Linked DNA regions of Homo sapiens. The protein of the gene in region 2 interacts with the protein of the main gene of each other region in a pairwise test. Each region holds a gene or a part of one and is shown on either strand. Other genes may lie near its edges.

Region 1 (3,500 bases), on a different chromosome or scaffold from region 2:
TTCCAGGTGATCATTAACCTATATGTCCAGCACCTTCCAAAAGAACTTCTGGGCCCTTCTGTCCTTAAGAATTACCTACCCATTTAATATGCCAACTTGAAATTGTTCTCTAATTTACTATATTGACTGAAAACTATTCTCTGATTATATCGTGTGCAGGAAACATCTTGCCTCCTCAACAAGATAAATTCCTTAATGGCAAAAACCATTTGGTAAGCATCTTTATAACCACTAGAATTCCCTAGTACCAGGCAATTTGAGTACTTAAAAAAAAAAAAAAAGTGTGAAGGAGCAAGGGTTTAATGAGCTTCTAAACCAGCAGTAGGGGATAGGATAAATCCTCAGGGCTTGGTGGGCAGAGGGAGATGCAGCTGATAAACAAGGGACTAGATACACTTCACTATGAGCATCATATACACAACCAACTCATACCCAGAGAAATTCTCTAAACCAATCCTTTCGCCTTTAACATTTTGGTACAGAAAAAGATTTTGCAGCTATACCTTGAGGCATGTCCAGAGCAGCCACAAATATTAAGCAACAGTAACTTGTTCCTGAACATATTAGCCTTTACAGAGAGTTCTGTCCTGGTGAAGGTGTGATATACTAAACACGTAGACATAAACCACCCTCTATTAATTTCAAGAACTAGTCTAGGCTGGATAAGGGAAGCAAAAAGGTACACATAAGTAAGCAGTGTATACTCTCAAAAGACCTATTTAATCCATGGCCTTTGCTAATACTGTCAGTTCAAGGGGATGGCAGAGATCAGAATGAAATTTATAAATTGCTCAGAAATAAGCCAACACTACCCCTGGCTGTTCCTTACCCTGAGCAACCCAAACAAAAAGCTTATTCACTTTAGTTGTGACTGGTCCGTCTGAGTTCTAAGTCAACAATGGGGAATTCTTGACATTCAATATTATCTGAGCAACTGGGTGGGAGCAAAATATGTGGTTCCTGCCAGATAGGAAATGACATTTTGAGCAGGGACAGGATCTGCTCTAGCCTAAAGCTTTGTGCAAGAGCTTGTCATCTAAGCAAATGACTGAGGGATGGAAATACATTTGGTCTTACCTTTATACAGCTAAGACAGTCATTATTTTACCTTCCTACTATAGGCACTGTGGAAGGTGGTTTATCATTCAACCCAACAATGCAGTCATGGTGCATCTGTCCCATCACATGCTGGCTGCTCAAAATAGAAACAAAAACATTTTCTGCCTTTTTAGCCCCTCACCTCCTGGCTTAGCTACAGAGTTAACTAACCTTTATAGCTAACAAACTGTCAGGTACCAGGGCAGAGGAACCAGCTGACCTGTACCTGCCCTGAGACTAAGTGATTTGGCCTTGGCCACAGAGCAAAGATACACAAGTCTTGAAGACAACTATTGATTCAATTGGACTATACTGTGGTTTTGTGGCATGTTGACCTTCACCTAACTTCCCCCTGAATTCATGTTGGTTCTGAGTTGCCTCAGCTTTGCCTCCTGGGATGAGTTATGCCCTGGCTGGCTCTGCTGGTCACTTTACCCTATCTTGGCACTCTAACTCTGGCTCCTGATCTCATCAGCATGCTGAAGCCTTAACCCTCTACTCAATCCCCTTCCCTTATCTCAAAAGTTTACTGTTCCCATTCCATTTCCTGTCTTTGGTGCTCAGAATTTGGTACCTGGCCCAGAAACTGAGAACTCTGGCCAGAGACTCATGAAGTGCCTGCCCCACCCCTGAAGACCACTCTTGCCCTTCCCTTCTGTGTGGTACCTGAAGATGCTGTTCCTCTTCCTGGAAAGTCTTCTCTAGTTGCTCCACTCTTGCCTGCTGCTGAGCCTGCTCTGCACACAGCTGGGACTGTAAGTCCTGAAGTTCCTGCTCCATTTGCACAACTTTCTTTGAGTTCCCCTTTTGGGTCTGCTTTTTCACATTCATAACGGCTTCATGTTTTTCCTGCATCTGTATTTTGAGCCTCAGAATCCTGGACATGGTCACCTTAAACATCTGTAAGCTTCTCTGAGATGCTGAAGAGTTTGAGGCTTTCTGCTCATGATGAACCTCTGTGACTTTGGGGAAGCCAGGGTAAATGGGAGCCCCTGTGGTCTTACTTGGCTCAAGGGCAGTCAACTTAGGATCCAAATTGTCAGAGGGTGTACTGGCCACTTCACCTTTCCCCTGTGATTTCACTGGCTGACCAGATTCACAAGACACTTTATTTATTTTGGATTTCAAATTTGAGGGGCCTTCAGCTCCAGGACCTGCTAATTCATCCAAACTGAATTTCCTTTTAGTTCTCAATTCCTTATTTTTTTCTATCATTTGGTCATTCTTTGGGGAAAGACAAGGATATATTGTCTCCCAGTCTTCTTCAGTAACTTCATATTCATACTCCGCATTCTCCTTATTTTCCAGAGGCACTCCAAGTTGGATGTAGTCTCCCTGATGAATGGAATAGACCCTTAAAGGTTCCAGACGCGCTCTGTTCAGCCAAACACCATTTAGACTCTGGGGAAAGTGAAAGAAAGAAGAAATAAGCTTCATGATTTTCGTCTTCTTAAAGGAATCTCTCTCCTGCTGCTGTAAAATCTTCTGCCTTTTCAGAAGGAAAACTCTTGATAACAAATAGAAAAGAAAGATTCATAAACGACCATCCTTAGAAACAGCATTCGTCAAGCAGTGCTTTGGCTTTTTACCTATATTTCACATTCATGCCTCCACAGAGAACTGCCATATAACAGGCAGGAATCACCTTATTATTGGTGGATAATTTACTCAAACACATGGAATAGCATTAAAGGAAACTGAAATTGGATAGCTCCTATTAACCTAAACTGGAGCAATGTCCCAAAACTAGAAAAAATGCTATTAGTGAAGAAAGCAGTAGCTAAGGGTGAGGTCCATGAAGTAGTTTCAAATGCTATCTCTGGATGTGGTTCCTTAACGCACTGGTAAGCAAGCAAGCACACATAAACCAAAAAAAAGAGAGTACTATATCTGGTACTGGGGTCAAATGGCAGGTAGGATCTGACCCAATTAATATCAACAGGGGTATATGGGCAATACAGGATAGCGGTTAAGAGCTGGAGCTCTGGACTCAGATGTGGGTTCATAGTCTGCATAGCATTTGGCAATTTACTTAACCTCTCCATGCCTCAGTTTTGTCTGCAGAACAGGGATGGTACAGTACCTACCTCACACTGTTCCAGTGAGGAATGAATAAGATAATGCATGTAAATCACTTAGCACAATGACTCACATAGAATAAATGCTTAATAAATATTTACTGTCTGGGAGTGGCAGCTTACATCTGTAATCTCAGCACTTTGAGAGGCCGAGGTGTGCGGATCACTTGAGGCCAGGAGTTCAAGACCACCCTGGCCAACACAGTGAGACCACCTCTCTACTAAAAATACAAAAATTAGCCAGGTGTGGTGGTGGGTGCCTGTAATCCCAGCTACTTGGGAGGCCAAGGCATGAGAATTACTAGAACCCAGGCGGCAGAGGAT
Region 2 (2,810 bases):
CCATCTTGCTTTTCTGTGGAACCTCAGAGGCCAGCCTCGACTTCCTGGAGACCCCCAGGTGGGGCTTCCTTCATACTTTGTTGGGGGACTTTGGAGGCGGGCAGGGGACAGGGCTATTGATAAGGTCCCCTTGGTGTTGCCTTCTTGCATCTCCACACATTTCCCTTGGATGGGACTTGCAGGCCTAAATGAGAGGCATTCTGACTGGTTGGCTGCCCTGGAAGGCAAGAAAATAGATTTATTTTTTTTCACAGGGCTCCAGTCTCTTGATGTGTGAGTGTTGTTGGGCTGGTCTTGGGCTGGTTCCAGGGAATGGAAGGGCTAAGAGATGGGCTTGGAAGGCAAGTTTCTGTTTGAGGCTCCATTTCCTTGCTGTGGAACCAAGGAACCTGCCAGCCCTGCTCCACCAGGTAGAGCTGGGAGGTTTCTATCGTCATCTGAATTAAACAGGGAAGGGACACTCGAGACTGGGGGACAAACAGGAAAAAAGAGCCAGCAAAGACTGGTAGTAATTTATTGTTACACACACACACACACACACACACACACACACACACACACACACACTAGGTTAACATCAACCACCGCACCATCCAGGCACTCCCCAGCCACCACGTGTGGGCACAAAGACACACACACCCCTCTTGGTAGGCAGATTTCCCTGTCTGCTCCCCTCTTCCTGTGGGAGAGGCATGCCTTCTGGGCAGTTTAAAGGTGGGAAGTTACAGGGGCCTAAAAAGGTAAAAGAGCAGCAGCTCTGCACTGGCCAGCTGTAAACAGTAAATAGGCCAGTCATGGAGGGTCCTGAATCCAGATCCTCAGGAAGGTTTTCACCAAACACCACAGTCCCATTTGATGTGATGCCCAGCCTCTATCCTTAAGGCATTTCCAGCGTCCCTGAGGCGCTCTGCTTAGACAACTGGCACAGAAGTGGTCAGGGCCTTGGCTGTGGCTCTGCCTCCTGCCTCACGGGAAGCCGGGGAGTGGAGCAGAGACCAGCATTAGGGAGCCTTGTGGCAGTGGTGAGAGGCTGCTCAGGAAGGAGCTGTGCCTCTCCCCTGGTCCTGGCCCCATGCCCTCAGCATCCTTAAGAAACACGGCTGTCCACCTTTTTCCCTGCAAGAAAACTAAGTCCATCCCTTATGACTGTCTCGGGCCCCAAAGGTGAAGGGCAGCTCCGGCAAGGGGAGAACTCCGATTGATTGGAGTCCCTGTTGGGGCAGTAGCAGGGTTCCACCCACCGCGGTCCTAGGCCTGGGGGCGAAGTCCAGGCCTGGCCACAAGGTTCAAAGATGTGTCAGACCCAAGCCGCTACCCCCTACTCCGAGGGCGAGGGCGGAGAGGCTCAGCCCCAGGGGCGGGGCCTGTAGTCGGAGGCCGAGCGGGCGTGGTCCGGGTAGTCCAGGCGGCTCTCGGTGGCAGTGAGCATGCGCTCCGGCTCCACCACGAACATGTAGTAGAGGTTCCACATCAGCATCGACAGCAGTGGCAGAAACGTCAGGCCGTAGCCGAAGCCTCGGAAGGAGCGGCCCACGGCAAAGGTCAGCCAGTAGATCAGCCTATGGGGGCAAGAAAAGGGTCAGGCTACTCTCGAGGGAAGCGCGTCAGCTGATTGGCAATAGGCTGACGGTGGGGGGAGTAGATAGGGGAGGCAGATGCAGTTGGTGGGTATGGCTGGTACTTCCAAATACAGCCAAAGTTTATGCACTTAACATGTATTAGGCACAGCGCTAATTACTATAAGTGATTGATTTGACTTCCCCACATCTTTATGAAGTTGAGTATGTTATTCCTTTCCCTCTTTTATTTACTTTTCGATTTATTTTTATTTTTTTAGAGACATGGTCTTGCTATGTTGCCAGTCTGGGCTCAAACTTCTGGCCTTGAGTGATTCTCTCACCTCAGACTCCTGAGTAGCTGGGATTACAGATGCGGGCCACCACACCTGGCTGTACAAACTTTAAAATGTTTGAGCAAATTCAATGAGTATAGTAAAATATCTTCCTCCCTTTACCGATTCCCACCCTATTCTCCCCCACCCCCACCCCAGGCATCAATATTATGGTTTCTTGTGCACTGAGTGATTTTTTAAATTATTATTATTTTTTTATTTTTGAGACAGAGTCTCTCTCTGTCACCCAGGCTGGAGTGCAGTGGTGCGATCTCAGCTCACTGCAACCTCCGCCTCCCGGGTTCAAGCAATTCTCCTGCCTCAGCCTCCTGAGTAGCTGAGACTACGGGCGCCCGCCACCATGCCTGGCTATTTTTTTGTATTTTTAGTAGAGATGGGGTTTCACCCGAGATGGTCTCAATCTCCTGACCTGATGATCCGCCTGCCTTGGCCTCCCAAAGTGCTGGGATTACAGGCGTGAGCCACCGCGCCTGGCCTATTTTTTTTTTTTTTTAAATTATAGATGGGGTCTCTGTCAGCCAGGCTGGAGTGCAGTGGCAGCCCCCAACTCCTGAGCTCAGGCAGTCCTCCCACCACAGCCTACCAAAGTGCCTTGGCCTCCCAAAGTGCTGAGATTACAGGTGTGAGCCACCATGCCCAGCAGATTTTTTTCTTTTATTTTTTTCTTAAAGACCAGTGTGCTTTTCTTGGAGAAAGAAGAAAAGAAGAAAGAAGGAAGAAGAAGAAGAAAGAAAGGAGGAAGAAGGAAGAAGAAGAGCCAGTGTGATAATACATTGAGTGATTTTTTAAAAAGTGCATATATGAGCAAAAAGTTATTTTTCCCTTTTCTGAAGTATGGCAGCATACTATATAGACTGTCTCTGCATGTTTATTTTTCCCCCATTTAATATATCCTGGA

What was found. The genes of interacting proteins can lie anywhere in the genome.
Region 1: the proteins of TMEM79 (region 2) and RNF8 interact in binary tests that used the Homo sapiens proteins (3 or more experiments, as listed by UniProt).

What each region holds. Positions count from the first base shown.
Region 1 is NC_000006.12:37,367,483-37,370,982, reverse strand, and holds part of RNF8 (E3 ubiquitin-protein ligase RNF8), read right to left. Parts: intron 2,606-3,500; exon of another isoform or gene 2,500-2,605; coding exon 1,765-2,499; intron 1-1,764. UniProt on the Homo sapiens protein: E3 ubiquitin-protein ligase that plays a key role in DNA damage signaling via 2 distinct roles: by mediating the 'Lys-63'-linked ubiquitination of histones H2A and H2AX and promoting the recruitment of DNA repair proteins at double-strand breaks (DSBs) sites, and by catalyzing 'Lys-48'-linked ubiquitination to remove target proteins from DNA damage sites.
Region 2 is NC_000001.11:156,290,134-156,292,943, reverse strand, and holds the end of TMEM79 (transmembrane protein 79), read right to left. Parts: intron 1,560-2,810; coding exon 1,346-1,559; 3' UTR 501-1,345; downstream 1-500.